Regions from separate parts of the Homo sapiens genome. Here region 2 is linked to region 1. The links come from fine-mapping of genetic effects on gene expression. A gene starts in region 1. The other region holds a variant in brackets. All regions are shown on one strand. Distances are between the middles of the regions.

Region 1 (15,205 bases):
ACCATATTACAGAAATATTTACTACATATTTTCCATCTGTAGTTTCTCAGAAGGGCTATGGATTAGTTTGAACTGTCAAATCCTTGCATACTTCTGTGACACCCCTGCCCATTTTCTGTCTTTAATTAACCAAGGTGTTAGGTGTTACTGTCACAACTGTTATGTTTTCCAGTAAACTAGAAGTACGATATTTGATAATTATATTTGTATCCTAAATTTCACCACCTAAATGTAATGTTGATTCCTCAAGAATGAAATGAAGGCACTACATTGAAATATGTTTTGTATAAATTTGTCATGTTGAACAACATTTTAGCATGGTAAGTTCCCTTAGCTATATGAATTTTGGCATGTTTCAGAGAGATCAGTAAATAAAATATTAGATAAAATATAAAAAAAAAAAAAAAAAAAAGAGAAAGAATGGCATTGCAGAAGCCAAGTAGGAAAATGTCAGAGGGGAAGGTCAGCTCTTGCTGTCATTAGCCCTGACTTCAGCCTTCCTTCCTGATCACTTCCTGGGCATTGCTGATCACACTGTCCTCCCCAAGTAGGTTATCTACAGTTGCCCTAATCTATGGTTCTGCTATCCCAACCACTTAGCACCCACCTGCAGGAAGTGCTTTTAGAAAAAGGCTTCTTAAATTGGAGAGTAAGAGAAAAAGAATCAAAATAAAGAAAAACCTGTAAAGCTACCTCTATAAAGTTATTTGATGTACCCAAGCATTTTAGAATAAGGATTACTATTCTTCAGCAGTAATAAGCATATCTGAAGTAATCAAAATGGTGACTCACAGGTTAACTCCCCCAGAAAGGAGAGTTAGATGTGCACAGAAATAGCTGGAGTAAAATAACTAGCTGTTATGAGAGACAGTGTCAACTGGGAAGATATCTGTCCCAAAGGATTGGTGATCTAAAGGAAGGTCAAGTAGTAGCCTTCTGTCAAAATAAGGCTGGAAAGAGAAGAGGGTTGCATGAAATCAGAGTTAAAGAGAAAGACATAACTGAAACTGAAGTTTTAGCTGAGGCGATCGATATGGGTAGAATGGGTAAAGTGATTATATCCACATAGTTACCAACATTCCAAGACACAGACTTCTGTGTCAATGTCTGTATCAACATGATTCCCTAGTCATTAAGATGTCTGAAACCAGTCTGGTGACTGATAGTAGAGGTATGATTTTACAGTCACACTGTAAGGACTACAATATGTGAGTGAATGTAATCTGCTATGCTGAGACAGTAGATTAATAGTCTGAGATTTTAATGTTTGAAGCCACATCTTGGGCACTTAAAGGAAATTATTTGGAGGCAGTCAATAGGTAGCTATGTTTAAAAAAAAAAAAAAAAGTTGCTTGGAGTTTGGCGAAATCTTTAGATTGAAGATACTTCCTGGCTGGGCACTGTGGCTCACACCTGTAATCCCAGCACTTTGGGAGACAGAGGTGGGTGGATCACCTGAGGTCAGGAATTCGAGACCACCATAGCCAACATGGTGAAACCCTGTTTCTACTAAAAATATAAAAATTAGCCAGGCGTGGTGGTACATACCTGTAATCCCAGCTACTCGGGAGGCTGAAGCAGGAGGCAGGAGAATTGCTTGAACCTGGGAGGTGGAGGTTGAAGTGAGCCAAGATCGCACCACTGCACTCCAGCCTGGGCGACAAGAGTGAAACTCTGTGCCTCACCCCCACAACCCCCAAAAAACCATACTTCCCAAACTGAGGAGTAATCCTTGATAAAATCTCTATTGTTATGGTCTCAAGAATAGTTCAAAGTACTTCTGTTAAGCACCAATTTCTGGAAGAAAAAATGCTCTGCAGGGTATATTCTGATCATGTTCTCACTGGCCAGGTAGAACATGAATAGGCATATCATCAGAGTCAATGTAAATCTCCATATTCTAAGGATCTCTTTATGAGGAACCAGAAGCCTAAATAAAGTTGGTAGTCATGGCTGCTCAGGACACACTGTAGTTTATTTTGTAATTATGGAACAGCACTCAACTTCAAACACTGTTCTACTTGTGAAAATTCTGATGAAACCATACACAGAGTATGAATCTACTATATAGTACTTACAGTGAAGCAAAGCAGGCCTATCTGTAAAGTATACTTGTTGACCACATTAACCATGTGTCAGTTAATGGCAGGTATTGTGTCCTGTTCATTTCAGTTTACTCAGGGACAAGGTCAGTGTCTGGCATATAGCAGGACTTGACAAACATTTGTTTAATGCATGTCTAATACTCTGCTGGAATAGGAAAGGATCCTCACAAAGAATATGGTGTTAATGATTTGTGAAAACAGAGAAAAGCAGCCTCTTGTCAAATTTATTACTTATCTAGATGCCATCAGTTTCAGCAACTCCAGGTACTGCTTGCTAACTATGACTATTGTTAATAATATCACATTTTGCTGCTACACTGGAAACATGCTTTCATCTGAATGGTTTCCCAAAAGCTGTGAGGCAGTCAAGTTCCTACAGAGAAACCAACTTAGACTCTTAGGAAGTTTAACTAAATGCTATCCCCCTCCTGTCTTTCATAGTCCAAAGGTGGGATTAATCACTGATAACACAATTGGTCCCATATGAGATGGTGATGTCTTGCAATATCTAAAGGTAGGCTATCACACAGGGTTTTGTCCAAAGGCAAAGTTCTGGAAAAATGTCAACAAATGCCACAAAACAAAGCTCCTGTAGTCTGGGAGATTGGAAGGTATAATCAAACAGCCTTCAGCTTTCAAGCAACCTTTAGCCAGGACTCTCAGTGACACATTTTTTCTGAGGAATGTCATTTTAAACTTCTCATTTACTATTTTGTGTTACAAGGTTTCCCTCTGTTGCCCAGCCTAGAGTGCAATGGCGCAATCTCGGCTCACTGCAGCCTTGGCTCAAGTAATCCTCTAACCTTAGCCTCCCAAGTAGCTAGGACTACAGGCCTGCACCACCATGCCTGGCTACTTTTTCTATTTTTTTGTAGAGATGGGGTTTCGCCATGTTGCCCAGGCTGCTCTTGAACTCTTAAGCTCAAGTGATACTCCTGTCTTTGCCTCCCAGAGTGTCAGTTCTGTGCCACCATGCCCGGCTCATTTTTCTATTTTCTTGTAGAGATGAGGTGTCACCATTGTTGCCCAGGCTGGTCTTGAACTCTTGAGTTCAGGTGATACTCCTGCCTTTGCCTCCCAGAGTGCTGGGATTATAGCCTGTGGCACTGTGCCCGGGCCTCATTTACTATTAACTTTAGTTTGCTAAGATCCAGAAAATTATTTCCCACATATACTTCTTAAGAACGAAGAATACAAGGGAGAGGACTTTGCCCATCTCAACTTGGGATAGACATACTGTCTGGCCAGATTAGTAGAAACTTGGAAAAGAACGCCATGGCCTCTACGGTGATGAAATTTTGACCATCTGAATGGGGGTACACTGAAAGGAGTACTCCAAACTCTTGTTATTGAAGTCAACTGTCTACCTCCAAATCCAGCAAGCGCTGAGGGCAAAGGTATAGCTCAAAGTCTTGATAATACATTGGGAGATTTGATAAGTCAAGAAAGATGATGAATTCCTAAATAGACTGATCTTTATTTGACACTAGGGTTTCCTGCTGATGTATGATTTATCTCCCATAGCAAAAACCAATCCTGAAAACAACAATCTATAACTGTAGTTCTAGGTGAAGAGTGTTGGATAAATTTTGTGCATCTCTTGTAACTATGATGTTGGCCTACAGCCAAAGAAGAAAATGTTACTGAGAGGTTATTGGAGGTCTCCAATGGTTATCATTTTGGGAAAAGATATGAATGGCAATCACAAAAGCTAGTATATCTTTGGTAGCTGAGCAGCTAAAGCCTTCAATTGGAGGAATCATCCCACTTTCTTGTACTAGTGAGATTATAACCTGTTGGTCGAACTAGGCTGAAATCCTCTCTACAACATCTCTGAAAAATGCCAATCCAGCCACTGCTTGGATACTTCCAGACAGTTCGATCGCTGAATATTGTTAAAGGTTGTCTGACCCCTTGTAACCTTCCACCTGCTGGCCTTAGTTTTGACTCCCAAAGCCACACAAGTAATATCCACTCACTCTTTGTGATTCTTCCACATATGTGAAGACGATAACATGGTATAGTCTTCTTTCATCTCTAGAATAAGCAGCACTAATTTTCGTATCTATGCTTGTGCAATAAATTCTGGATGCTCTGATTCCACTTTCCTCCTCTGAATAAAAAAATCCCCTCTTATATTTGATTCACACAATTGAATATAATAATCCAAGTCCGGTCTAACTGGTCCTATGTATGTGGTTCAGTAGCATACTCATACTAACAGTAACATAACATACTATAAATATAAAATAAGTGTTACCTTGTTTAGCTAGGACTCTACAATGCAAGCTCCTACCCCTACTCCAAGAGTTCTAAGATTGTAAGGAATGCCACATATTTCTTTCATTTCTATGATGGGCATCAAGATAACTTTCTCCCCAAGTTTGTGTCACCTCTTCTTTACTTTTTAGAAATAAGTTCACAGAAGCAGAGTCTTCTTTACTGAAATTTGCTGTTTTCTAGGGCATTAACTGTCAAGAATTTCAGATACTTTTGCTTTTAGTAAAATTAGAGCAACAGCCACCCTACCACCAACTTGCCTCTACAAATTCTGTTGTGTTGGAAAAAAATCATTCCTGGCCGGGCGCAGTGGCTCACGCCTGTAATCCCAGCACTTTGGGAGGCCGAGGCAGGCGGATCACGAGATCAGGAGTTTGAGACCAGCCTGACCAACATGTTGAAACCCTGTCTCTACTAAAAATACAAAAATTTGCCGGGCGTGGCAGTGCGCACCTGTAATCCCAGCTACTTAGGAGGCTGAGACAGGAGAATCGGTCGAACCCGGAAGGTGGGGGTTGCAGTGAGCTGAGATCGTGACGCTGCACTCCAGCCTGGGAGACAGAACTAGACTCCATCTCAAAAAAAAAAAGAAAAATTCCTGTCTTGTGTATATCTGCGTATGGTCGGGGGCAGTGGCAGGCGGACTGAAAAGGAAACAATTTACAGAGTCATTTTTCTCCTAAGGAATTACTTCTTAAATAATATTTATCTAGAAGAAAAGTATGCAATCTAGTTCAGTAATAAAAAAACACCTAGTAGAAGGAAAATTCCTGTTTATGTTGACTATCTTCTTCATTAACAGAATTTAACTCTCTTGGTGCTAGCAACGGATTATTCTTTTAATTGAACTAACTTTTGGGGATGAAATTAAAGCAAATGTTTTCTAAACTAATTTTCATTTTCTGTGGTCTGCACGAATCTCTCAGTCCTAATATTACTTGGGAATCAAAACAAAAAGACAAAAACATGCCTCCCCCAGTAAAATCTCCAAACTTTAATCAGCTAAAAAAATTTTAAAATAATGATGTCCCCCATCACCTCCAATAGCTCACTCTATGACTGAAGTACAAACACAAGAAACTGCTTGATCAGGCAGTTACATAATACCACCACCTGTGTTGAACTTCCAACAGTATGCTTGCAGGCACATTAACATGACTGATAACTCACTACCTACAACAGATTATAAAGTATATTCTCCATATATTAAGTGAAAAGGTAGCTGGATGCACTTAAAAAGCTTCTCTCTGATGAACCTAAAATTCAGATTAAATTTACAAACCCAATTTTTAAAAAAGTTTCTTATATGATTGAAGTGCAGGACTTCAAAAGCTCTGGTTGAATGAAGAACCCCCACTTCATAATTTTTATTACTCCCTTTTTATACCTTTAACTCTTAATCTGATAACCTATACCTGATAATTTGGGTAAGTTGTGAGGGGTGGGTTGGTTTCCAAAATATTAAGTCTTCCAAACTTGAACAAAATGAAACCTATGTAAAAAATATGCTTTGAAACGTTGGGACAGAACTGAAGGTGGGAAGGCAGAGAAGGAACAAGGTCACTGAGGATCTAATAACATAATCTTACACCTCTAAATATTACTATTTTCAGATATGAACTCACTAATACACCAAATTCTTGAAAGGTAGCAACTAAGATCTTTCTTGGTTATTTTTATCCCACAGATCAAGTGAACAGAATCTAAGTAACCCTACCCTTTGGCTTATGTATCAGTTGATCGTGACAGTTTGCCAAATGAGTTGTTTAAATGTTGACTACATGGTCAAACAGGACAACCTAAATTAGCTGAAGAACGGCAGCACTTACCACCGAAATTTCGGGCAAAAAGGCTAACTAGGTGTGTTTGACTTAAGTATTCTTCCTTCTCTTTCCATTGCCCACAAACCGTTTCTAGTTCTCCCACCTAGGTTCCCTAAACTTTCTTCTTTTTAAAAGACTCCCCAATGGAAATCCAACAAAGGTGCAATTGATCAAAAAAGCATACCTCCTGGTAGTATTTACATTTAAAATCTGGAACAGGTTAAAGCGAACAAATCTCCAATTGGTAGAAAGTGTAAAAGTAATATCTGTGAAAGAGGAAATATTTCTCACTGCTCCTTTTCTCTTCATCAATCTAGCCCCAAAAGAACAGGAGTACTTTAAAAGGTATTCCCCGATTTTTCAAAAAATTGTTTTAAACAATCATGAAATACACAAAACAAAAAACCAGGATTGTCAGAGGTAAGAGGAGGTACTCCCATTTTCAATCACGCATGACTCACCTGAAGTTAGAAACAGTCATCATCTTTCCTACAAGTGAACAGCATGCATGCTTTATGGGAATAAGCTGAATATCCCATCTATGGCTCTTTTAAATTTTTCGACTAAATTTAATATGCTTAAATCATAAAGTGAACCTAATAAATATTAAAATAATGTAATTCAAACGATCTAAATTTCAGAATGAAGCAAGGTTAGTCCCAACTTAAATTCTAGATTCAAGCTAAAGTACTTGCACTATCTTTTCTCTTATACTACCACTTTCCGCCCAACTTGTATGTGTGTGTGTCTAAGGCTTCCCGCACCCAGCCTAAGTCAGGTTTCAGTTCTCCCAAACTTGCCTATTTCCCGTTCTAGTCACTCCAGAAACTTGGTAATGATTGGCTATTCTGATAAACCAATTAACGCTAATGTGTCAACGTCCTATTAAGCTACTCCTCCTAAATTACATCCTTGTATTTTACAAAGTCCTTCAAGACCTTAACCCAAATGGAACTTGCAAGAACGAAAAATTTTGGAGGTAACTGACCTTTTAAATCATAAGGTCTATCAACTACGTCCCCTACTCTTTCTTGTGTGTAGAGGCCTTCTAGGGTAACAAGACCGGAAGTTGGTACAGGTATTGTTGATACTGTAAAACAAAACAAAGCCAAAACCCCAAACCACCCCCAACACCTGGCAAAAAAACCAAACCAAGACAAAACAAAAAACTTCCAGCGAGTGTGGCACGCTCACCCTACCCCTAATCTCCTTAGTCCCCACTGGAAGAGAGCGAGATCACCAGGACCAGAGTCCTGGAGAAAGGTCGGGAGGCGGAGGAGCACTGGTTTCAGACCTGTGGGCCCCGGCTGCGCAGGTGGGGTCTGGAGCGAGGCGAGGGGACGCTGGCCCCGGTTACCTGCGGCGAAGTGCAGCGGGGTGGATTTCCTGCCCGCCGTGTCGCGGCTGTTCACCTTCTCAGGCGTCACCAGCCTCTTGACTCGTTCCACGTCCCCGTTGCGGCACGCCTCGAACAGCTCTCGGGCGGCCGGCTCCACGGCCTCGGCCGCGGCGCTCGCGCAGGCCGCTCCCCCGCCGGCGCAGCGGCGACCCGACATGATCCTGGCCGCCGCCACAGCCAGCAACAGCGCCAGCAACCGGAGCAGGAGCCCCGGCCCCGCGAGCAGGAGGGCGAGGCCCCCCGGAGAAGACGCGCTCAGGGCCCGGGCCGCTTGGCTCCCTGCTGTCACCGGATCCGGCGCAGTCCCATGGCCGCGCCCACGCGCGCCCCTCGCTGGGCTCCCTGCCCCCCGGCTGCCCCGCGGCGGCGGAGGCAGCGCGAATCCGCCGTCCGGGTCCTGAAACGACGCGGCGGCGGAAGCTGGCAAGGCCCCTCCTGCCAGCTCCGTCCAGCCCCGGGAGCGCACGTGACGTCGTCCCGCGCGTGCGCAGTGGCCGGGCACCGGCTGGGCAGGTTTCGGCTAGCGAGGCGGCGCGAAGGGTTTGTGGGAAATGTGAGGCGAGAGGCTTCGGCGGCGGGAGAAGGGGCTTCGTCCCACCGCCATCTTTGCGGTGGGTTCTGCTGAAGCCGAACGATCCTGCATATTGTGTTTTTTGTTGTTGTTGTTTTAAGCCCTGGGCTTTCCAGGCTGAACTTTCTCACTACCATTACACTGAAAAAGAGCCCTTGAAAGTTTTGCTCGGATCTTGCACATTCTTTTGGAAGTCTTACTGTGGAAATTGTCCGTGTTTTCAGCTTCCACATCCCTTTCTCCTGGGAGATTTCTTTTCCGTTTTTTTTACTTTGTCTCTTTTCTTTCCTCCGCAACTGCTTTGTTGTTGTTGTTGTTGTTTCTTGTAAACCACTTCTCAAAAGTGAACTAGTTGCCGTTTAATAGAAGTTTGGATGAACTGCCCCCAAAATAAAGGAAATCCGAACAGTCATGGAAGTTGACTCCAATTGGAGGGATGGCTCTGATCAATTACTCTTTCCACAGTAAGTTATTAGCTCAGGATTGATTAGAGGAACTTTTTGTAAATCAATATTGTACCTGACATGCCTAAAGTTTGGATACACTGAGCATACGCATCTCCAAGAAAGTTTTCTGAGTTATAATCTTTTTCTTTGACCAACAAACAAAAGAAAAGCATATAATTGATTTTCATGCTTAAGATACTGGTGTAGTTTTACACGATAATTCCCCACTACACCCCCTTGTCTTAAACTGAAAGAAAGGTATGCCTATACATACATTTTACTTACAGAAGATGATACATGTTGACCTTTGCCATTCTGAAAAGCATCCCCCCCCCAACCTCCTACCTTAACCTGTTTTTCAGGAAATCCAGTTTTTGTTGGGGAATGTTGACTCACTACAGTGCTAAAAGAGGATGTACACTTTTTTGAGCATTTTTATACATATGAAATTGAAGTTATGGTGCTTATCAATAACATGAACATGCATGAACGAACCTAGGACTAGAACACTACCAATATGATTGCGTTTATCATTTTTCTTCCCATAAATCTGCTATGGTGATCTATGATCAGTGATAAGTTGAAATCACTGTTGTAATTGTTTTGAGGCACCACAAACCACACCCATAGAAGACAGCAATCAATCAATAAATGTGTATGTTCTGACTGCCCCACTGACAGGCTACTCTGCCATCTCTCTCCCTCTCCTGGGGCCTATCTGTTCCCTTAAACACAATAATATTGAAATTAGGCCAATTAAGAACTCTGCAATGGTTTTCTAGGTGTTCAAGTGAAAGGAAAAGTTGCGTATCTCTCACTTTAAATCAAAAGCTAGAAATGATTCATCTTAGTGCAGAAGGCATGTTGAAAGCTGAGATAGGCCCCCTTGCACCAAACAGCCAAGTTGTGAATGCAAATGAGAAGTTTTTGAAGGAAATTAAAAGTGCTACTCCAGTGAACACATGAATGATAAGAAAGTGAAACAGACTTACTGCTGATACGAAGAACGTTTGAGTGGTCTGGATAGAAGGTCAAACCAGCCACAAGATTTCCTTAAGCCAAAGCTGAATCCAGAGCAAAGCCCTAACTGCCTTCAATTTTGTGAAGGCTGAGAGACCTGAGGAAGTTGCAGAAGACAAGTTAAAAGCTAGCAGAGGTTGGTTCATGAAGTTTAAGGAAAGAAGCTGTCTTCATAATATAGAAGTGTAAGGTGAAGCAGCAAATACTGATGTAGGAGCTGCAGCAAGTTAACTAGAACAGGGGTCCCCAACCCCCGGCCCTTGGACCGGTACTGGTCCCTAGCCTGTAAGGAACAAGGACGCACAGCGTGAGGTGAGCAGAGAAGGTGCAGGGCGGGGGATGGAGGCAGGGTGGGGATGGGCGGGGAGTGAGCATTACCGCCTGAGCTCCACCTCCTGTCAGATCAGCAGCAGCATTAGATTTTCACAGGAGCGCAAACCCTATTGTGAACTGCACATGTGAGGGATCTAGGAATTTGAGGCTATGGTGAGCTGTGATCATGTCACTGCACTCCTCTACAGCTTGGGTGACAGAGACCCTGTCTCTGAAAACAAACAGAAAAACCAGCTTGAATGGATGAGGAGTTACTTCTTATGGAGCAAAAAAAAATTTTTTTCAGATGGAACCTACTCCTGGTGAAGATGCTGTAAAAATTTTTGAAATGACAACAAAGAATTTAGAATGTTACTTAAACATAGGTGATAAAGCAGGAGCAGAGCTTGAGAGATAGGCTCTATTTTTTTGTTTGTTTTGCCATTAAGTTTCAACACCCAAATAGACTCTAATTTTGAAAGCTCTGTGGGTAAAATGCTATCAAACAGCATTGTATGCTACAGAGAAATCTTTTGTGAAAGGAACAGTCAATCGATGTGGCAAATTTCATTTTAGCTTCTCTTAAGAAATTGCTACAGCCACCCCAACCTTCAGCAACCATTATCAGTTAGCAGCCCTCGATATCATTGCGGCAAGACCCTCCAACTGCAAAAAGATGACAAGTTGCTGAAGGTTCAGATGACTGTTAGCATTTTTTAGCAACAAAATATCTATTTTTAATTTTTAAAATTGTTTGAATTTTTAATTTTTTGGGTACATCACAGGTGTATATATTTATTGGGTATATGAGATATTTTGATACTATCACTCAATGCCTAATAATCATATCAGGGTAAATGGGGTATCAGTCATTTCAAACATTTATCTTTTGCATTACAATCAATTATACTATTTTAGTTATTTTTAAATGTACAATTAGATTATTATTGACTATAGTCACTGTGTTGTGTTATCAAATAATAGGTTTTATTCATTCTTTCTAATTATTTTTTGTACCCATTAAACATCCCCCACCCACTTCACTTCTCAGCCTCTGGTAACCATCATTCTACTATCTCCATGTGTTCAATTGTTTTAATTTTTAGCTCCCACATAAGTGAGAATATGAAAAGTTTGTCTTTTTCTGCCTGGTTTATTTCACTTAACATAATGATCTCCATTTCCATCTATGTTATTGCAAATGATAAGCTCTCATACATTTTTATGGCTGAATAGTACTCCATTGTGTATATGCACCATGTTTTCTTTATCCATTCATCTGCTGATGTACACTTAGGTTGTTTCCAAATTTTGGCTATTGTGGACAGTGCTGCAATAAGCATGGGAGTGCAGATATCTCCTCAATATACTGATTTGCTTTCATTAGGGTATATACCTAGCAGTGGGATTGCTGGATCATATGACAACTCTATTTTTAGTTCTTTGAGGAACCTTCAAACTGTTCTTCATAGGGGTTGTACTAATTTACATTCCCACTAAAAGTGTACAAGGGTTCCCTTTTCTCCATATCCTTGTTGGCATTTGTTATTGCCTGTCTTTTGGATAAAAGCCAGTTTAGCTGAGATGAGATGATATCTCACTGTAGTTTTGGATGAGCAAAGAAAATGTTTTTTACATTTCTCTGATGATCAATGATGTCAAGAACCTTTTCACATGTCTATTTGCCATTTGGGTTTTTTGTTGTTGTTGTTTTTTGTTTTTTTGAGATAGAGTCTCACTCTGTCGCCCAGGATGGAGTGCAATGGCACGATCCCGGCTCCCTGCAACCTCTGCCTCCCGGGTTCAAGCGATTCTCGTGTCTCAGCCTCCCGAGAAGCTGGGATTACAGGCACCTGCCAGCATGACTGGCTAATTTTTGTATTTTTAGTAGAGATGGGGTTTCACCATGTTGGCCAGTCTGGTCTTGAACTCGTGACCTCAAGTGTTGTGCCCACCTCAGCCTCCCAAAGTGCTGGGATTACAGGCATGACCCACCGCGCCCTCTTCTATTTGCCATTTGTATGTCTTCTTTTGAGAAATGTCTATTCAGATCTTTCACCCATTTTTAAATCAGATTATTAGACTTTTTTTTTTTCCTTTTGAGTTGTTTGAGCTCTTTATATATTCTGGTTATTAATCTTTTGTCAGATGAATAGTTTGTAAATATTTTCTCCCATTCTGTGGATTGTCTTTACACATTGTTGATTGTTTCCTTTGTTGTGCAGAAGCTTTTTAACTTGATGTGATCCCATTTGTCCATTTTTTGCTTGGGCTGTTTGTGCTTCTGGGGTATTACTCAAGAAATCTTTGCCCAGTCCAATGACCTGGAGAGTTTCTCCAGTGTTTTCTTTTAGTAGTTTGATAGTTTCAGGTGTTAGATTTAAATCTTTAATCCATTTTGACTTGACTTTTGTATATGGTGAGAGATAGGGGTCTAGTTTCACTCTTCTGCATATGGATATTCAGTTTTCCTAGCACATTTATTGAAGATGGTGTCCTTTCCTCAATATGTGTTCTTGGCACCTTAGTCAAAAATGAGTTCACTATAGATGTATGGATTTATTTCTGGGTTCTTTATTCTGTTCCATAGGTCTGTCTGTTTTTATACCACTACCATGCTGTTTTGATAAGTCAGGTAATGTGATTTCTCCAGTCTTATTCTTTTTGCTCAGGATAGCTTTGGCTATTATGGGTATTTTGTGGATCTGTATAAATTTGAAAATTGTTTTTTTCATCAATGTTTTTTAGTTTTCATTGTAGAGATCTTTCACTTCTTTGGTTAATTCCTAGGTATTTAATTTTATTTGTAGCTATTATAAATGGGTTAATGGGATTACTTTCTTGAATTCTTTTTCAGATTGTTCACTGCTGGCATATATAAATGCTTCTGATTTTTGTATGTTGATTTTGTATCCTGTAACTTTACTGAGTTTTGTTTTGTTTTTTTTGAAACAGGGTCTAACTGTGTCATCCAGGCTGTAGCGCAGTGGTGTGATCAGGGCTCACTGCAGCCTCAATCTCCTGGGCCGAAGCAATCCTTCCACCTCAGCCTCCTGAGTAGCTGGGACCACAGGCATGCACCATCATGCCCAGCTATTTTTTTTTTTTTTTTTTTTTTTTTTGAGATGGAGTCTCCCTATGCTGATCCTGAACTCCTGGGCTCAAGCAATCCTTCTGTTTTGGCCTCTAAAATGTTCAGATTATAGACATGAGCAACTGCAGCCAGCCAACATTACTGAATTTGTTTATATGTTCTAAAAGCTTTTTGGTAGTCTTTAGAGTTTTCAAAATATAAGATCATATAATCTGTAAACAAGGATTATTTGACTTCTTCTATTCCAGTTTGGATACTCTTTATTTCTTTCTCTTGTCTTATTGTTCTACCTAGGACTTCCAGTACTATGTTGAATAACAGTGGTGAAAGTGGACATCTTTGCAGTGTTCCAGATCTTAGAGGAAGGTCTCTCAGTTTTTCCCTATTCACTATGATGTCAGCTGTGGGTCTGTTGTATATGGCTTTTATTATGTTGAGGTATGTAACTTCTATGTCCAGTTTTTTGATGGTTTTTATCATAAAAGGATGTTGAATGTTACCAAATGCTTTTTCAGCATCAGTTGAAATGATCATATGCTTTTTGTCCTTCATTCTGTTGATATGATGTATCACATTGATTTGTGTATGTTGAACCATTCTTTCATCCCTGGGATAAATCCCACTTGGTCATGATGAATGAGCTTTTAACGTCTTGTTGAATTCGGTTTACTAGTAATTTTGTTGAGGATTTTTGCATCAATGTTCATCAGGGATATTGGTCTGTAGTTTTCTTTTTTTGATGTGTTTTTCTTTTTGGTATCAGGATAATACTGGCCTTGTAGAATGAGTTCGAAAGTATTCCCTTCTCTGTTTTTTGGAATAGTTTGAGTAGGATTGGGATCAGTTCTTCTTTAAATGTTTGGTAAAATTTAGCAGTGAAGCCACCAGATCCCAGGCTTTTCTTTGCTGGAGGATTTTTTATTATGGCTTTGATTTCATTACTTGTTATTGTTCTGTTCAGGTTTTGGATTTCTTTATGATTCAAGATTGATAGGTTTTATGTGTTTAGAAATTTATCCATTTCTTCTAGGTTTTCCAATATATTGGCATATAGTTGCTCATAGTAGCCTTTAATGTTCCTTTGAATTTCTTTTTTTTTTTTTTAATTTTTTTTTTTTTGAGATGGAGTTTCACTCTGTTGCCAGGCTGGAGTGTAGTGGTGCGAACTCAGCTCACTGCAAGCTCCGTCTCCCCGGGTTCACGCCATTCTCCTGTCTCAGCCTCCTGAGTAGCTGGGACTACAGGCGCCCACCACCACGTCTGGCTAATTTTTGTATTTTTAGTAGAGACGGGGTTTCACCGTGTTGGCCAGGATGGTCTCGATCTCCTGACCACGTGATCCACCCGCCTCGGCCTCCCAAAGTGCTGGGATTACAGGTGTGAGCCACCGCACCTGGCTGTGATCCTTTGAATTTCTGTGGTATTAATTGTAATGTCTCATTTTTCACTGCTGATTTTATTTGAATCTTCTCTCTTTTTTTCTTAGTCGGCTAAAGATTTGTCAATTTTGTTTATCTTTTCAAAAAAATCAACATTTTGTTTCATTGATCTTTTGTGTTGCTTTCTTCATTTCAATTTCACTTAGTGCTGCTCTGATCTTTATTGTTTCTTTTCTTCTTCTAACTTCAGGTTTGGTTTGCCCTTGCTTTTATAGTTCTTTAAGACGCATCATTAAGTTGTTTATTGGAAGTTTTTCTACTTTTTTGATGTAGGTGCTTACAGGTTTATATTTTTCTTAATACTGCTTTTGTTTTATTCCATTATTTTTGGTATGTTGTATTTCCATTATCATTTGTTGCAAGACATTTTTCAATTTCCTTCCTAATCTCATTGGCCCACTGTTCATTCAGTTGCATAGTGTTCAATTTCCATGTGTTTGTATAGTTTCCAAAATTCCTCTTGTTACTGATTTCTAGTTTTATTCCGTTGTGGTTAGAGAAGACAGTTGCTATTATTTCAATTTCTGAATGTTTTAAGACTTGTTTTGTGGCCTAAGATATGGTCTATCCTTTAGAATGACCCATTTGCTGAGGAAAAGAATGTATATTCTGCAGCCATTAGATAAAATGTTCTGTCAATGCATATTAGTTCCATTTGGTCTATAGTGCACATTATGTCTGATATTTCTTTGTTGATTTTCTGTTTGGATGATCTA
Region 2 (15,205 bases), 86 kb before region 1:
CCAGCATTTTGGGAGGCTGAGGCCGGCAGATCACGAGGTCAGGAGATCGAGACCATCCTGGCTAACATGGTGAAATCCCGTCTCTACTAAAAATACAAAAACAAAATTAGCCGGGCGTGGTGGTGGGTGCCTGTAATCCCAGCTACTCGGGAGGCTGAGGCAGGAGAACGGCGTGAACCCGGGAGGCGGAGCTTGCAGTGAGCCGAGATCATGCCACTGCACTCCAGCCTGGGCGAGAGAGGGAGACTCTGTCTCAAAAAAAAATATATATATATACGTAGATATATGTATATATTATATATACATGTATATATGTATATATTATATGTACATGTATATATGTATATATTATACGTACATATATGTATATATATTACATACATATATACGTATATATGTATATATGTGTATATATATGTATATATGTGTGTGTATATATATATGTGTGTGTGTGTATGTATATATATATATATATATATACACACATATATATATATAAATTAGCCAGGCATGGGGGCACGCACCTGTAATCCCAGCTACTTGGGAGGCTGAGGCAGGAGAATCACTTGAATCCTGGAGGCAGAGGTTGCAGTCAGCCAAGATGGCACCACTGCACTCCAGCCTGGGCCACAGAATGAGACTCCATCTCAAAAAATAAAAAAATAATAAAAGTCGTAATGCAAGAATCTACTGCATTCCTAGTATCAGAGAGGAAGGACATGACAAGTTTACCCTTTCTCATTCCCAAGGATTTCTGCCGACCAAGTTCATCATGCTCTGGAGTAATTCAGTTGCCAACATCGGGAGCAGTCACCTGCAGTCCCTTTTGTTTTGAGAACATTGGACAAGAAATATGGAGAAGAATTTCCCTGGGGACTAAACAGTATGGCCAGGTCGTGTTGTACTGGCAGACCCAAGCCCTCCCAAATGATGGACGAACTTTTGTGCTCTTTAATATTTTTTTTGTAAATGTGTTTGTGATATGCAGGACCCTCTCCAGAGCAGGCTTAGGCAGTGGCCCTTCTCATCTGGCCATAAGGGTAGTACTGCTCCTCTTAAAAGCTTGTGCTACTGTCATGAGCATGAAGGATGCACACACACTGACTCATTACCCTTGTGCAAGGTCACCTCTGACCTTTACTGCAGCCTTTTCCCAGGCACCAACCCCTTAGATAGGGCCAGGAAGCCTGGAACTGGCACTGACTTAAAACAGAGAGGAGCTGTATTCTACCCACATGCCTAAGAATGAAATCTCCAAAGGCCACTGCTTTGTTTTCCAACTTGTATGAAATCTAAATAGTGCTCCAAAATGAAATCCTTGTGCCTCCAGAATTGTAACACATATACTTGTTTTAAAGTCTTTATCATAAAAGCAAAACAAAACAAAACAGAACAAAACAAACAAAACAGAACAAAACAAACAAGGAAGAAACAGCCAGGCATGGTGACTCACACCTGTAATCCCTGCACTTTGGGAGGCCAAGGAGTGGAGGATCACTTGAGGCCAGGAGTTCAAGACCAGCTTGGGCAACATAGGAAGATCCTGTCTCTAAAGAAATAAAAAAAATTTTAAAAATTAGCCAAGTGTAGTGACATGTGCCTGTAGTCATAGCTACTTGGCAGGATCACTTGAGCCTAAGAGTTAAAGGCTGAAGTGAACTATGATCATGCCACTGAACATCAGCCTAGGTGACAGAGCCAGATGCTGTCTTGAAAAAACAAAAAAACAAAACAACTCAACAATAATAATTCTTATCATTTTTTTTAATTTACAAAGCATTTTTTGTACATCCTCTTCTTATCTACCTCATCTGATGGCATTTTGTGAATGAGAAAAGAGGTTCGGAGACATTCAGTGACTTCTCCAAGGACACAAAACAGAGCTGAAACTTGAACCAAGGTCTTTCCAATACAGCATAGCTGTCTCATCATCAGGCCATAGACCTTGAACATCCTCCACCAAATACTTCAGTCCTTTAGTCTCTGTTAATCCGTTGTTTCTGCTCAGCCAGAATGCCTTTCTACCAGTCCCAAATTCATAGCCTTCCACATGCATCAGAGCTTCTGCCTTAATGAGGAGGAGCCACTTTCCATGCTTTTGTTAGACAGAGGGGCCTAATCCCTTCCATCTTTGCCTGCAGACTCCATCACGGTAACTCTGGCTAACATAAAGATGTGCCTGATGAATCATCACCTTCTTTGTAAGATGATGGTGCCAGCCTCTATGGGCAGACCCAAAGTCAGTTCATGATGATGCTTAGACCTGTCTACCACAAAATGAGAAAAACAAGGACAATATAGTGAATTTTGGTAGCACTGAATTGATCAGATTAAGGATTATTCTTTATTCTGTGATTATGTCCTTTTTTTTTTTTTTTGCAGGGGTGGAGGCAGGTGGGTTTAAAATATCCTTTTTTTTTTTTAATAAAATGATGATGCTAGTATTATAGATGGTAGTTTGAAAAGTTTAATGTCTTCACTTGGCAAAGTATCAAAGTGGCAACCTTATGTCTTTCCCCAAAATGTCTTAGAAGGTTTTATTAGTCTTGGAATTCTAGACATCTGAGAACTACTGGCTTGGGGGATGATTTAATATTTTCTGACTCCCTAGAGTGTCACCAGTGGTGTTCTATGCCTCAGTGAGGTAGTAGCTGATATGGGTTTCCTAAATGACATTTAGTGAAAATATTGGCCTCGTGCTTAATATAGGCACATGAGTGTCACCACTTTCTACCAAACGACTTATGAAAATAGTGGCACAGTAAAGTAATCTGATGTATGGAAATACCTCCCAATTTTACAGGCTCTTCACGTATTAAATAAAGGGAGGGCTCTGGAGAAGCTAAAAGTCTCAAAGGTAGTATGTCGTACTGAGCAGGGATCCCCAACCTCCGGGTTGAGCTTGGCCTGTTAGGAACTGGGCCGCACAGCAGGAGGTGAGTGGCCAGCGAGTGGGCATTACCGCCTGAGCTCCACCTCCTGTCAGAGCAGCGGAGGCTTAGATTCTCATAGGAATGAGAACTATTGTGAACTGTGCATGCGAGGGATCTAGGCTGAGTGCTCCTTATGAGAAATTAACTAGTGCTTGATGATCTGAGATGGGACAGTTAGTTTCATTGTCTTCCACAAAACCGGTCCCTGGTGCCAATAAGGTTGGGGACCACTGAGAATGTAGACTATGGAGTCAGATAACCAACGTTCAAGACCCAGTGATGTCTTGCCATGTCACACTTAGGAGACAAATTACTTATCCTAAGTCTCAATTTTCTCATCTTTAAAATGGAAGTAATACTAATGATGCTAACTTTATAAGACTGTTCTGAGGATGACATATGTATAAAGCACTTAATATAGTGTTTGCTGTATAGCTAGCACTTGATAGACATTTGTTATAGATAGGCGTGGAGAAAAAGGCAATGGGGTTAGAGGGAAAGAATTCCGAGGTCCACATATGGGATAAGAAGAGCAACAGGGCTTGTGAAGATTTAAATTTTTTTTATTTTTATTTTTGAGAGGGAGTCCCGCTCTGTTGCCCAGGCTGGAGTGCTGTGGTGCAATCTCAGCTCACCACAACATTCGCCTCCTGGGTTCAAGTGTCCCCTGCCTCAGCCTCCCAAGTAGATGGGATTACAGGCACCCACCACCACGCCCGGCTAATTTTTGTATTTTTAGTAGAGATGGAGTTTCACCATGTTGCCAGGCTGGTTTCAAACTCCTGACCTCAAGTGATCCACCCACCTCGGCCTCCCAAAGTGCTGAGATTACAGCGTGAGCTACCACACCCAACCTAAAAATGTTTTTAATTGTCATCTAACAAGAGAAAAGAGAATGGTTAGGCTGGGTGCGGTGGCTCATGCCTGTAATCCCAGCACTTTGGGAGGCCGAGGCTGGCGGATCATGAGGTCAGGAGATCGAGACCATCCTGGCTAACACGGTGAAACCCCATCTCTACTAAAAATACAAAAATTAGCCGGGCTTGGTGGCGGGTGCACCTGTAGGCCCAGCTACTCGGGAGGCTGAGGCAGGAGAATTGCTTGAACCTGGGAGGCGGAGGTTGCAGTGAGCTGAGATTGCGCCACTGCACTCCAGCCTGGGCGACAGAGCGAGACTCCATCTCAAAAAAAAAAAAAAAAAAAAAAAGAAGAAGAAAAGAGAGTGTTTTAATTTGGGTTTGGGCAGGGCTGTTGTAAAGCAGCAGAAAATCATCAAGATCTAAACGGGAGGTAAGAAAAAATGAAAAGACTAAATGTCTTTATTTATGGGACATTTGACTCTGGAAGAGAAATCCTGGGAAAGGGGGTTTTATTGCATCAGACCCCCGACCAGGGAAGCAAATGTGGTCTGCTTAGGAAACCTCCCTTTTTTTGTGTGTACCAGAAGCTCAGCAACAAATAATTTCCCTCAAAAGCCTGGTTTTTAAATGTGCTAACTAGACACAGTTCTAGAATAACTACAGCCCCCAAATTTAAATTCCAGAAATATGCTATACAGGCTGAAAATAATTAAAATTTAAAACAAAATTATCATAAAAAGCAAATAACATAACGAAATGCAATGCATGAATCTTTAACATATTCTGGATTTAAAAAAAATTTTAGTTAAAAGGCATTTTGGGAAAAATAAGAAAATTTAAATGAGGACTATATTTTAGGAGATATTAAATTAGCGTTGATTTTCTTAGGTGTGATAAATGGTGTTGTTGGTACATAAGAAAATGTACTTATTCCTAGTTGCTGCATGTGAATTATTTTGGGGCAAATTGTCATGAGGTCTGCAATTTCCTTTCAAATAATGCAGGAGAGAGGAATCTCTCTATACAGACAAAGGATAGAGCGAGTAGGGCAAAATGCTAAGAAGTGAATTTAGGTGAAGAATCTACAGGTGTTAATTGTATTACTGCACTACACGTTCAACTTTTTTGTAGATTTGCATATTTTCTACATTAAAAGTTTGGAGAAAAGCTAACTGGATCGCGCCTCCACTTACAAATATAAAAAAGTCTTAGCGAAGGGAAGAAAAGTGAAAGAGACAGGGTTCTGCTTCGGTTTCCCCACGTGCAAAGGTGTGGAGGAGGCTGCAGTTTTAAGCGCTTGCCTGGGCGCTGGCTACCTTCTTCTGGCCTCGGTGCGGTGACTTCCAGCAAGGGAAGCCACCTACGTTGCACTGGCTTCGTGGGCTCCACGATTATCTTAAAATGTTTTCTAAATTATTTGAATTGCGATGAGACTATGTGGTTCTGGGGAAGGTAAACATGGCGATTAAATAGTGAGATTTTTAAAAATAACACCAAAAGAGTCACGCGTGCACGTGGAGGAATGTGAACGTGGCGAGTGGCAGCACCGCCCGCGGGGAGATAGATGCTCCGGGCACCGGTGGAGCTGTGAGGGCCCCGGGCTCCGGGCGCTGCGCGATGCTGCGATGCTCCGGGCGAAGCTCCCGGCGCGCACAGGGTTAACGCCGGGCGAGGGGACCGCGCGTCCTCTGCCCGCCCACATTCCTCCGCTGAATGGAGGCGGTGGTCTGATGCCGGTGGGGTGATTTCGCCCCTCGGCGTCCGACCTTCCCACTGGCCAGGCCCGCGCCCCTCCCGGGCCGGCCCTGAGCTCCGCAGTCACGTTACCTTCCCCGCTATTCACGCGGCCCTGGGGTGTTACAAAGAGAGACATTAAGAAGTCTGTGGGCATCGCAGGGGCCCGGAACGTGGGGACAATTACCGTGGCTCTGAAGGCCCCTGTCTCCCAGCCTTGTAATCTGACCCCTGCGATGATGTTACAGGGGCCCCTCTGTTTGCAGATTTGTTTCTTTGTCTTAATTTTGGCAATAAAGTGAGCTACAACTTCAGAAATGTGTGTGTGCCCTTTCATTAAATCCGCATTAACCAAACAAAAAGGAGACACTTTCATTGATTTGCCTTTGTCTAATTTATGAAGCATATTTTACAAAATATAAACCTTTTTAATAATAGGGAGAAAATCAGGTTTTAGGTCTATGGAGACCTAAATGAAAATACATGTTTTCACAAATAATGCTCCAGAACGAAGTCTAATCATTTAACCTTCTCTTGAGATTAACCACATTGTGGGATTTTTTATTTGACAGCTTCAGCTGGCACTGTTTTTAAAAAATCTTATAAAATATATAAAAAATAAAAAAGAGGCCAGGTGCGGTGGCTCACCTGTCATCCCAGCACTTTGGGAGGCCGAGGCGGGCGGATCACTGAGGCGGGCGGATTAGGTGGGCGAGACCAGCCTGACCAGTGTGATGAAACCCCATCTCTACTAAAAATACAAAAATTAGCTGGGTGTGGTGGCATGCCCCTGTAACCCCGGCTACTCAGGAGGCTGACGCAGGAGAATCGCTTGAACCTGGGAGGCAGAGATTGCACTGAGTAGAGATGGTGCCATTGCACTCTAGCCTGGTAACCAGAGCGAAACTCCATCTCAAAATAAATAAATAAATAAATAAATAAATAAATAAAATAAATATAGTAAAGCATAAAAGAGGCCAGGGGCAGTGGCTGACGCCTGTAATCCCAGCACTTTGGGAGGCCAGGTGGATAGATGGTTTGAGGTCAGGAGGTCTAGACCAGCCTGGCCAATATGGGAAAACCCTGTCTCTACTAAAAATACAAAAATTAGCTCAGTGTGGTGGCGCTCACCTGTAATTCTAGCTACTGAGGAGGATGAGGAATGAGAATCGTTTGTGCCTAGGAGGTGGAGGTTGCAGTAAGCTGAGATTGCCCCACTGCACTCCAGCCTGGGCAACAGAGCAAGACTCTGTTTCAAAAGAATAAATACATTAAATTAAAAGAGTGTAAATGCTTCACTTTTATTACATGACTCAATGACCATAAAAATTAGAGACAGTGTGATTAAGTGGGCGTCAGTCCATTTTATGTTGCTATAACAGAAAACCCAAGACTGGGTAATTTATAAAGAACAGAGATTTATTTCCTACAGTTCTGGAGGCTGAAAAGACCAAGATCTGGCAACTGCGTCTGGTTGGCTTCCAGTGCGGGTCCCATGCGGCAACATCACATGGCATAAGGCATCATAGGGCAAGGGGGGTGGGGGTGCACTGAGACCCAAACTGGCTTTCATAACAGACTTACTCTCATGATAACTAACCCACTCCTGTGATAACCCACTAAGCTATTCATCCATCAATGGATTAATCCATTCATGAGGGCAGAGCGCTTCTGACCCTAATCCACCTCTTAATATGGTTATATTGGGGATTAAGTTTTAACATGAATTTCAGAGGGGACAAACATTCAAACCATAGCAGCATGCAAAACAAAATGACATTTATTATTACTAGAGAAAGTAAATTAGCATGCACAGAAAGAGTGAAAGGAAATGTCCAAGGAGAATGTGAATTTACTCCTTCAATTAGTACTTCAAGGGCTCATGATGAGCCAGGCTCTGGAGAATGAGCGGGCCATTGGTCCTGCCTTCAGGGATGTCCCATTCAACCAGAGGAAGAGTGTTGAATCAAGTGGTCCATATCACCAAGGCCAAGTACCAGGTGCTGCAGGAGCCCCTCAAGGAGCGATACTCCACGGGTTCGGGGTCACAGCTGTGTGAAGACGGGGGAAGAAGGAGAATTCCGGCAGGTTTCCTGAAGGAAGAAATGCTAAACTGAAACCTGAAGAAAGAGCGGAAGTTAGGCCAGTGGGTCTCCAACACTGCTGGACGTTGGAATCACCTGGGGAGCTTTAAAAAACTCCCCACAATCAAATCATAATGTCTAGCGTGAGAGTCTGGGATCAGAATTTTCCAAAAAACATTCCAGGTGATTCCAATGAACAGCAAAGTTTGGGGAATTACTAAGGCAAAGGGAGGGAAGCTAAGGTTTTTAGGTTTTCTCAAGGAAAACACTTGGCCAGCAGGCATGGTGCAGGTGCTAGGATATAATTGTTCTTTGATTCGTCCTTCTGCTTCTCACTGCCCTGCCTCTAGTAAGCACTCAGGAATGTTTACTGATACTGGAACAAAAGCTAATAAAAATTTAGATGTATCCAAAAACCAGTCCTTCCTCAAGAATGTCTTTTAGCACTCACTGTTGATGAGTTAGGGTCTAAAATGTATAATGGCAGGCTCTCACAGAAGGACATAAAATCCAGCATTTTGGCAGCTA[G/T]GGGAAAAAAATCCCTCTTCTCTCAATTCCTGTTCTCCATCTTCAGTCATTGCTATAATTGTAACTTCACAGGCAACCATCCAAGCAATTTTGTTTCTATCTTCAAATGGCTTCCCCCTCTTTATTAAAAAAAAGCGCAAGGCCTGCCAAAATTCAGAGTATTTTAATTATGAAAGGTCAAGAACAGCCTAAACAAGAGGCCACAAAAGAAAGAATATTCCTGCTGGTGAAGGGAGACAAGGTATGGGGGCTGGAAGCAAGGGCCCTCCCTCTACCCGGGGGCCACATTTTATGCCTGCTGCTCTCAGAGAGCAGGATTTGCCCATCACTGTCTCCTGGCTAAGCACACTTTGACATTCTGCTCTGTAATGTACCTTGGCATGAAATGGCCTCTGGCAATTTATCTCCTGCTTTAAATGGTAATTTCAAGCCTACAGGGTCTTTAAATGGGAAACGGGAAAGAAAACCTCTTTTAATCCAGGCTGAGGCAGCCTGCATTTTCATTAGCTCACAGACCACAGGGTAGGAACTCCTTTTCTAGGAGAAGACGGGTCTCTGACATTCTAAGAGATCTATTGAAGCTCAGACTAAGAACATGATGTCACACCACTCAAGCAGCGCCCCAGGGAGCAACATCCCCACGTTGGCTCTATCTTATTATATTCACCTCTAGGGACCTTTACATCTCTCCGTAGGAAAGCAGGAAGGGAAATGCAAAATGGATTCTGTCTTATTGGTCCTCCCCTGAAGCACTAGGTCCAACTGTGACCCCATGGGATTAGCAGGGGGAGTTTTGTGACTTAGATTCAAGCCACAAAAGCTCTCTCAAATGCCGGAGACTCCACGGGGACCAGGCAGGGAACGGGGTGTGGCCGGAGAGGACTTTTTTCATTAGTCCTGGATCACACACAGGCGGTAAGGTGTCTGTGCCTCTGAAGCCAACCCGTAATGCATGATCAGCACAAAGCCCTGAGCAGTGGAAGCTGACCTAACATGACGCAAAGCCTGTTGACAAGGAAGCAGAGCGTGTTTCGTGGAATGTAAGTGTGGGTTTTGAAGCAGGCTGTCCAAGTCTCGCTAGGAGCTGTCGCCGAGCCCTGAAAATCAGTCAGGCTTTTCCAAATATCTTTCCTCTTGGGCACAGTGAGGTCACGCCTCCTCACATTTATATGCCGTTTCTAGTCTGCCAAATGTTTTCACAGACATTACCTCATCTGAGCCTCTTAGCCCCTCTTCCAGTCGCCAGGGCATATGTGATTATTCTCCCTCTTTTAGCAGCATGGGAAACTGAGGCTCAGAGGGAGTAAATGACATGGGGGGAAAGAGCTGCCCTCTTGAGCCCAGAGCTGACTCTAAAGTGCTTTCTATCCACTGGAATTCTTCAAGTCTGGGCTGAATGTTACTTGTATCTGAACCACCAAGGAAGTTCAGGAAAAATATAGATTTCTGGGCCCCACTCTGACCTTCTGAAACTGACCCTCTGGGCAACACTCAGGAACCTTTTTTTTTTTAGAGATAGGGTCTCACTCTGCCACTTGGGCAGGAATGCAGTGGCAGGATCATAGCTCACTGCAGTCTTGAACTCCTGGCCTAAAGCAACACTCCGGCCTTAGCCTCCCGAGTAGCTGGGACTAAAGGAGCAGGCCACTGCCCCCGGCTTATTAAAAAAATATATATATATATATATTTTGTGGTACAGATGGAGTTTCACTAGTTGCCCTGGCTGCAGAAGACTATTTTTAACCTGAAGATTCCCCAGCCGATTCTGGTAAGAATCACTTTTGGTAACTAAAATATATAAGTCAACTTTATATATAAGCCAAAAGCCAGCCTCATGCTTAAGGGAAGAACACTAGAAACATTTCTTTAAAGTCAAGAACCAGATAAGACTGCCCACCATCACTATTTAACATTGTTCTGCAAATAGTAGCTGATGTTATTAGTCAAGAGAAAAAAAAAGTTTAAAAAATTTAAAGGATAAAGTAAAATTATTTTTACTTCCAATTCAGATATTATCTGAACCCAAGAAAATCAACTGAAAAACCATCTCAAACAATAAAAAAATTCAGTAAGATGGGTGCACATAAAATTAATAAATAAAAATTAATAGCTTTCCTATTTATACATAAAAAGCAGTTATAAGATGTAATGGAAGAAAATATTCCATTTATATAATAACAAAAAATATATACCTAAGAATAAATGTAACAATGAGAAGAATTGTTACTTAGAGACACTATTATTATTATTATTATTATTTTGAGACAGGATCTCACTCTGTTGCCCAGGCTGGAGTACAGTGGTGAGATCTCGGCTCATTGCAACCTCCACCTCCTGGGCTCAAGCAATCCTCTCACCTCAGCCTCCTCAGTAGCTGGGACTATAGGTGCATGCCACTACACTTGGTTAATTTTTGTTTAAAAATTTTTTGTAGAGACCAGGTCTCACTGTGTTCCCCAGTCTGCTTATATACTATTCTTGTACAGAAAGATTCAATAATATAACTTAATTTCTTCCTAAATTAATATACAAAATTTTCATGACCTAATAACATGTCAACCTATTTGAGGGATGAAGTGTGAAATTTTACAAACTGATTCTAAAGCCACTATGGAAAAATACATGTGTAAGGATTCTTTTTTTTGTTTGTTTTTTTTTTGAGACAGAGTCTCACTTTGTTGCCTAGGCTGGAGTGCAGTGGCACAATCTCAGCTCACTGCAACCTCTGCCTCCCAGGTTCAAGTGATTCTTCTGCCTCAGCCTCCGGAGTAGCTGGGACTACAGGCGCTCTACCCATCAATGTGATGGTATTTGGAGATGGGGCCTTTAGGAGGTAATTAGATTTAGATAAAGTCATAAGGGTGGGGCCCTCATGATGGGATTAGTGACCTTGAAAACAAGACAACAAGTTTAAGATCAGGGTGCCAGCATGACCGAGGTCTGGTGAGGACTTTTTCCTGGCTTGCAGACAACTGCTTCTCACTGTGCCCCTTGACATAGACGAGGAATTAATTTTTCTTTCTTTCAATCATGAGGGGTGGACCCCCCTCACAACATGTTAGGGCATAGTGAGAAGGCAGCTGTCTGCAAGCGGGAAAGAGGATCCAGAGTGATCCTGTTGAAGCTTAAGTCAAACCATGCCACTGCTTTTGCTCACAACCCTGCAGTGGCTCCCCATTTCACTTAGAGTAAAAAGCTAAAGTGCTAAAAATGCCTAGCTTGATCCTGGGTGACCCACCTTTGCATCTGTGACACGATTTCCCACTCTATCCCACTCCAGCCTTCTCCAAGCACACAGGCAGGATCCCCTGAGGGCTTCTGCAGTTGCTGTTCTGTGCGTAGAATGCTTTTCCCCCAACACTCCCCACGGCCTACTCCTCCACTTCCTTTACAGTTGTTCAGATGCCACCTTCTCAGTGAGGCCTTCCAAACCACCTCATGTTAAATTCCGCTGCACCAGCCCCTTCTCTCACAGCTCACTCCCAATCCTCCCCACCCTGCTCTATTTTCCCCTATATCACTAATCACATTCTAAATTCAATATAATTTACTTACTTGTTTTTATTGTCAGTCTTCCCCCAACTAAAAGGTAAACTTCACAAGGATGGATTCCACTGATGTAGCCCCAGTGTCTAGAATAATGCCTGGCAAATAGAAGGTGTTCAATAAAACACCCGCCAGGTGAGTGAATGGGCTTATATGGTCTTTACTCAGTTCTTTTAAAGTCTGTTCATCATTATATGGAGACAGCAATAGCTAACAGTGCACTACCAGCAATAATGATAACCACAACATAGTTATTTATCAAATGCACTATCAGCAACAACAATAATATCAATAATCATAGTTATTTTTGAAATTTACCACCACTAATAATAGTATCAATAACAGTTATTTTTCAAACTACACTATCAAAAATCGTAATTGGCATGTATCACATCCCTGTACTATGAGCCAGATAATCCCACATAGAAAATATTATTAAATCCATTTTCCAGATGAGGACACTAGAGCTCAAGGGTTAAAGAAACTTGCCCAAGGCCCAAGGCCAGTAAGTGGAGGATCTTTTCTGATTCCTTTTTCCACTGTGTTTGGAAACTCCTAAATGTGCTGGGCTCCTGGCATGCAGTAAGTCCGCCCTGAGGAAATAGGAGTCTTTGCTCACACTCTGTGGGAATGTCATTGGTTGCCTGTACAGAACTGCAGAATGGGTGGGTCTTTCTTCAGTTTTTCTGGTACTTCCAGTCTTGGACCATGTGGAATCACCACTCCCTCCCCACCCCTGCCAGCCTGCAGATTCGGTCAGAGGAGATTTCTGTCCCTAGAGGCAGAAAACTGCTGCAACTTGCCCTCCAAGAGGTGTGGACCAAAGAGGAAGCTGATGAAAATCTAACTGCCTGCCTCAATGTCTCTTGAAATGGATGCTCCAAAGGATGTTTTTACTTAGAATCCCTAATCAGCCGATTTTTAAACAGATTGATTTGAGGAACAGATGGACTCTGGATGAAGCTGTAATCCGGAGGTTGCCACTGATTTCTGTTGACAGTTTTAAACCCCACCTATTTGTCAACAGTGGGAACTCTTCTGGGGGAATGCTCTGTTCCTGAAAGAGAAGAATGTTTCCATTCTGACCACCGAATAAAGAGAGAATGGATCTAGGCAGGAGTGATTTGACTGAAGTTAAATAGGTTTTAATATAAAAAGGCTAGCAGATTCCAATGGAAGTGAATACAGTTGGTCTGTATTTACACACAGGGATTAAGCAAACTAATCCGATGGGAGTCTGTGCCGGCGATTGTTTGGGAGCAAGATAGATCCATCTGCGTGTAAAGAATTGTGAATGAATGAGGATCTATGGCTCAGTGGGCAGGGGGGGCATGGGGGAGACCACCAGTCTGACTAATCAGACATTCACATTTCCCACTGTTTTGTTCTATTGTATCCAAATGTGAGAAGCTGCTCTCCAGTCCCCCACATACAAAGCTCTTTATTGGACTTTACTGTGGCATGATCCCGGCTGCTTTACTCCAACTGCCAGCCTCAGAAGGAGTTTTGCTTGATGGTGTCTGGCAGCTTGGCTTTGCTTCAGTAGATTTATGAGCTGTGAAAGATGGTCAAATTAACACCCTAAGCGTTCCTGATAGGATTAGAGGCCTGCATTAGCATACCACCCTGAAGTACCACACTATCTCTGTGTCTTCCCAGCCCTTCTGGGTGGGGTTTGGAGAGGGTAAGTGGGAGGTGATGCCACACACCCCTCTCCCAGCTGGCAACACAAAGGGTCACCATGTGATTCCAGATGATGTTATTTGGCATTTAATATCTAATGGCAGTGTCTCCCAATCAAAAGAACTGAACTGAAGTGGTGAATGCATCCCTTTTCAGGGCTGGATGCCCATCCTTGCTCTCATGGAGAGAAAGAGCCGTCTCGTCTTTGGGGTGAGATTGACAATCCAACCACCCTAACCAGGACTGGAGTGGACCTTAAAATATCCATTTAAGTCATAATGATTACTGATTGTTCTGATTATAATGGTAACACATATTTATTGTAGAAAATTTGGAAAATGATGAAAAATACAGCAAAGTAAAAATCACCCATCATCCCATTACTTAGAGATAGCTTGCCATTAACATTTTGGTGTATTAATTTATTGATAATCTGTTTTCTATGCATGTAGACAGGTGATTTGTTATTTTTGCTTTAACAAAGTGGGATCATATTGTTTATCCTAAATCTTTTAATATTATATCCAATACATTTTAATAAATTTCTTCTGCTGGGCGCGGTAATCCCAGCACTTTGGGAGGCCAAGGCAGGTGGATCATCTGAAGTCGGGAGTTTGAGACCAGCCTGGCCAACATGGTGAAACCTTGTCTCTACTAAAAATACAAAAATTAGCTGGGCATGGTGACGCATGTCTGTAATACCAGCTACTTGGGAGGCTGAGGCAAGAGAATCACTTGAACCTGGGAGGCAGAAGTTGCAGTGAGCTGAGATCCAGCCACTGCACTCCAGCCTGGGTGACAGAGCGAGACTCAAAAAAAAACAAAAAACTTATTTGGAAAAGGTTATACAATTAATATATATTATATTACTGTATATTATATATTTACTATATATTATATAATGTATATTATATATATATATTTCTTTTTTTCTTCTTGAGACAATGTCTCCCTCTGTCACTCAGGCTGGAGTGCAGTGGCATTATCATGGTTTACTGCAACCTCTGCCCCCCAGGCTCAAGAAATTCTCTCACCTCAGCCTTCTGAGTGCTGGGACCTGAGGCACACACCACCATGCCTGGCTAATTTTTATATTTTTTGGTAGAGATGGGGTCTTGCCATGTTGCCCAGGCTGGTCTCTAACTCTTTGACTCAAGTGATCCACCCTCCTTGGCCTCCCAAAATCTATTTGGAATTTATTTTAGAATATGAGTGAAGTAAGGATTTGACTTAAATCACACCTGGAATTACAGATGTGAGCCACTGCGCCTGGCCTATATTTCTTTTTATAATAGAGATAAGGTCTTGCCATGTTACCCAGGCTGGTCTTGAACTCCTCCTGGGCTCAAGCCACCCTCCCACCTCAGCCTCCCAAAGTTCTGGGATTACAGATGTGAGCCACCATGCCTAGCGTTTTTTTTTTTTTTTTTAAAGGGTCAGGGTCTGGCTCTGTCTCGCAGGCTGGAGTATGGTAGTGCGATCATAGCTCACTATAGCCTCAAACTCCTGGCCTTAAAGTGTCCTCCTGCTTCAGCCTCCTGAGTAGCTGGGACTATAGACAGAGCATCATCAGCATGCCTGACTAATTTTTTGTTTGTTGCTAGAGACAGGGTCTGGTTATGTTGCCCAGGCTTGTCTAGAACTCCTGGCCTCAAGCTTTCCTTCTGCCTTGGCCTCCCAAAGTCCTGGGATTACAGGTGTGAGCTACCATGCCTGGCCTAGGGAAGGTTATTTTTAATGGGTGCATAGTGTTCCATCATATAGAATAAAATATCTCAATTTAGGTTGCATTAGCCAAAGTAATGGGTTTCACTTTAGGGGACAACAGGCATAAAAA

Direction of the effects. Positions count from the first base shown, and alleles are read on the strand shown. Sizes are in standard deviations (SD) of each study's normalised expression.
With allele G in place of T in region 2, the expression in esophagus mucosa of the gene that starts at base 8,029 in region 1 is higher (small effect, 0.30 SD a copy in GTEx).

Evidence for each region. PIP is the estimated chance that this variant, and not a neighbour inherited with it, causes the effect.
Region 2: its variant is the best candidate, but not a certain one, in a credible set for the expression of TNKS2 in esophagus mucosa (GTEx, PIP 0.69).

Annotation. Positions count from the first base shown.
Region 1 is chr10:91,791,250-91,806,454 of GRCh38, reverse strand. TNKS2 (tankyrase 2) reads right to left here and starts at 8,029. Exons shown (of 27, transcript NM_025235.4): 1 at 7,566-8,029. The coding sequence starts at 7,764. It overlaps TNKS2-DT (TNKS2 divergent transcript), which reads left to right and starts at 8,164. Exons shown (of 2, transcript NR_108071.1): 1 at 8,164-8,218. It also overlaps the pseudogene SRP9P1. RefSeq lists a silencer at 7,661-8,070 and an enhancer at 8,151-8,320.
Region 2 is chr10:91,877,730-91,892,934 of GRCh38, reverse strand. No RefSeq gene overlaps it. Among named protein-coding and RNA genes, the nearest start is that of FGFBP3-AS1, 23 kb to the left of the region's middle. RefSeq lists enhancers at 10,822-11,321, 11,322-11,823. The variant G/T (reference allele first, on the strand shown) is at 8,140.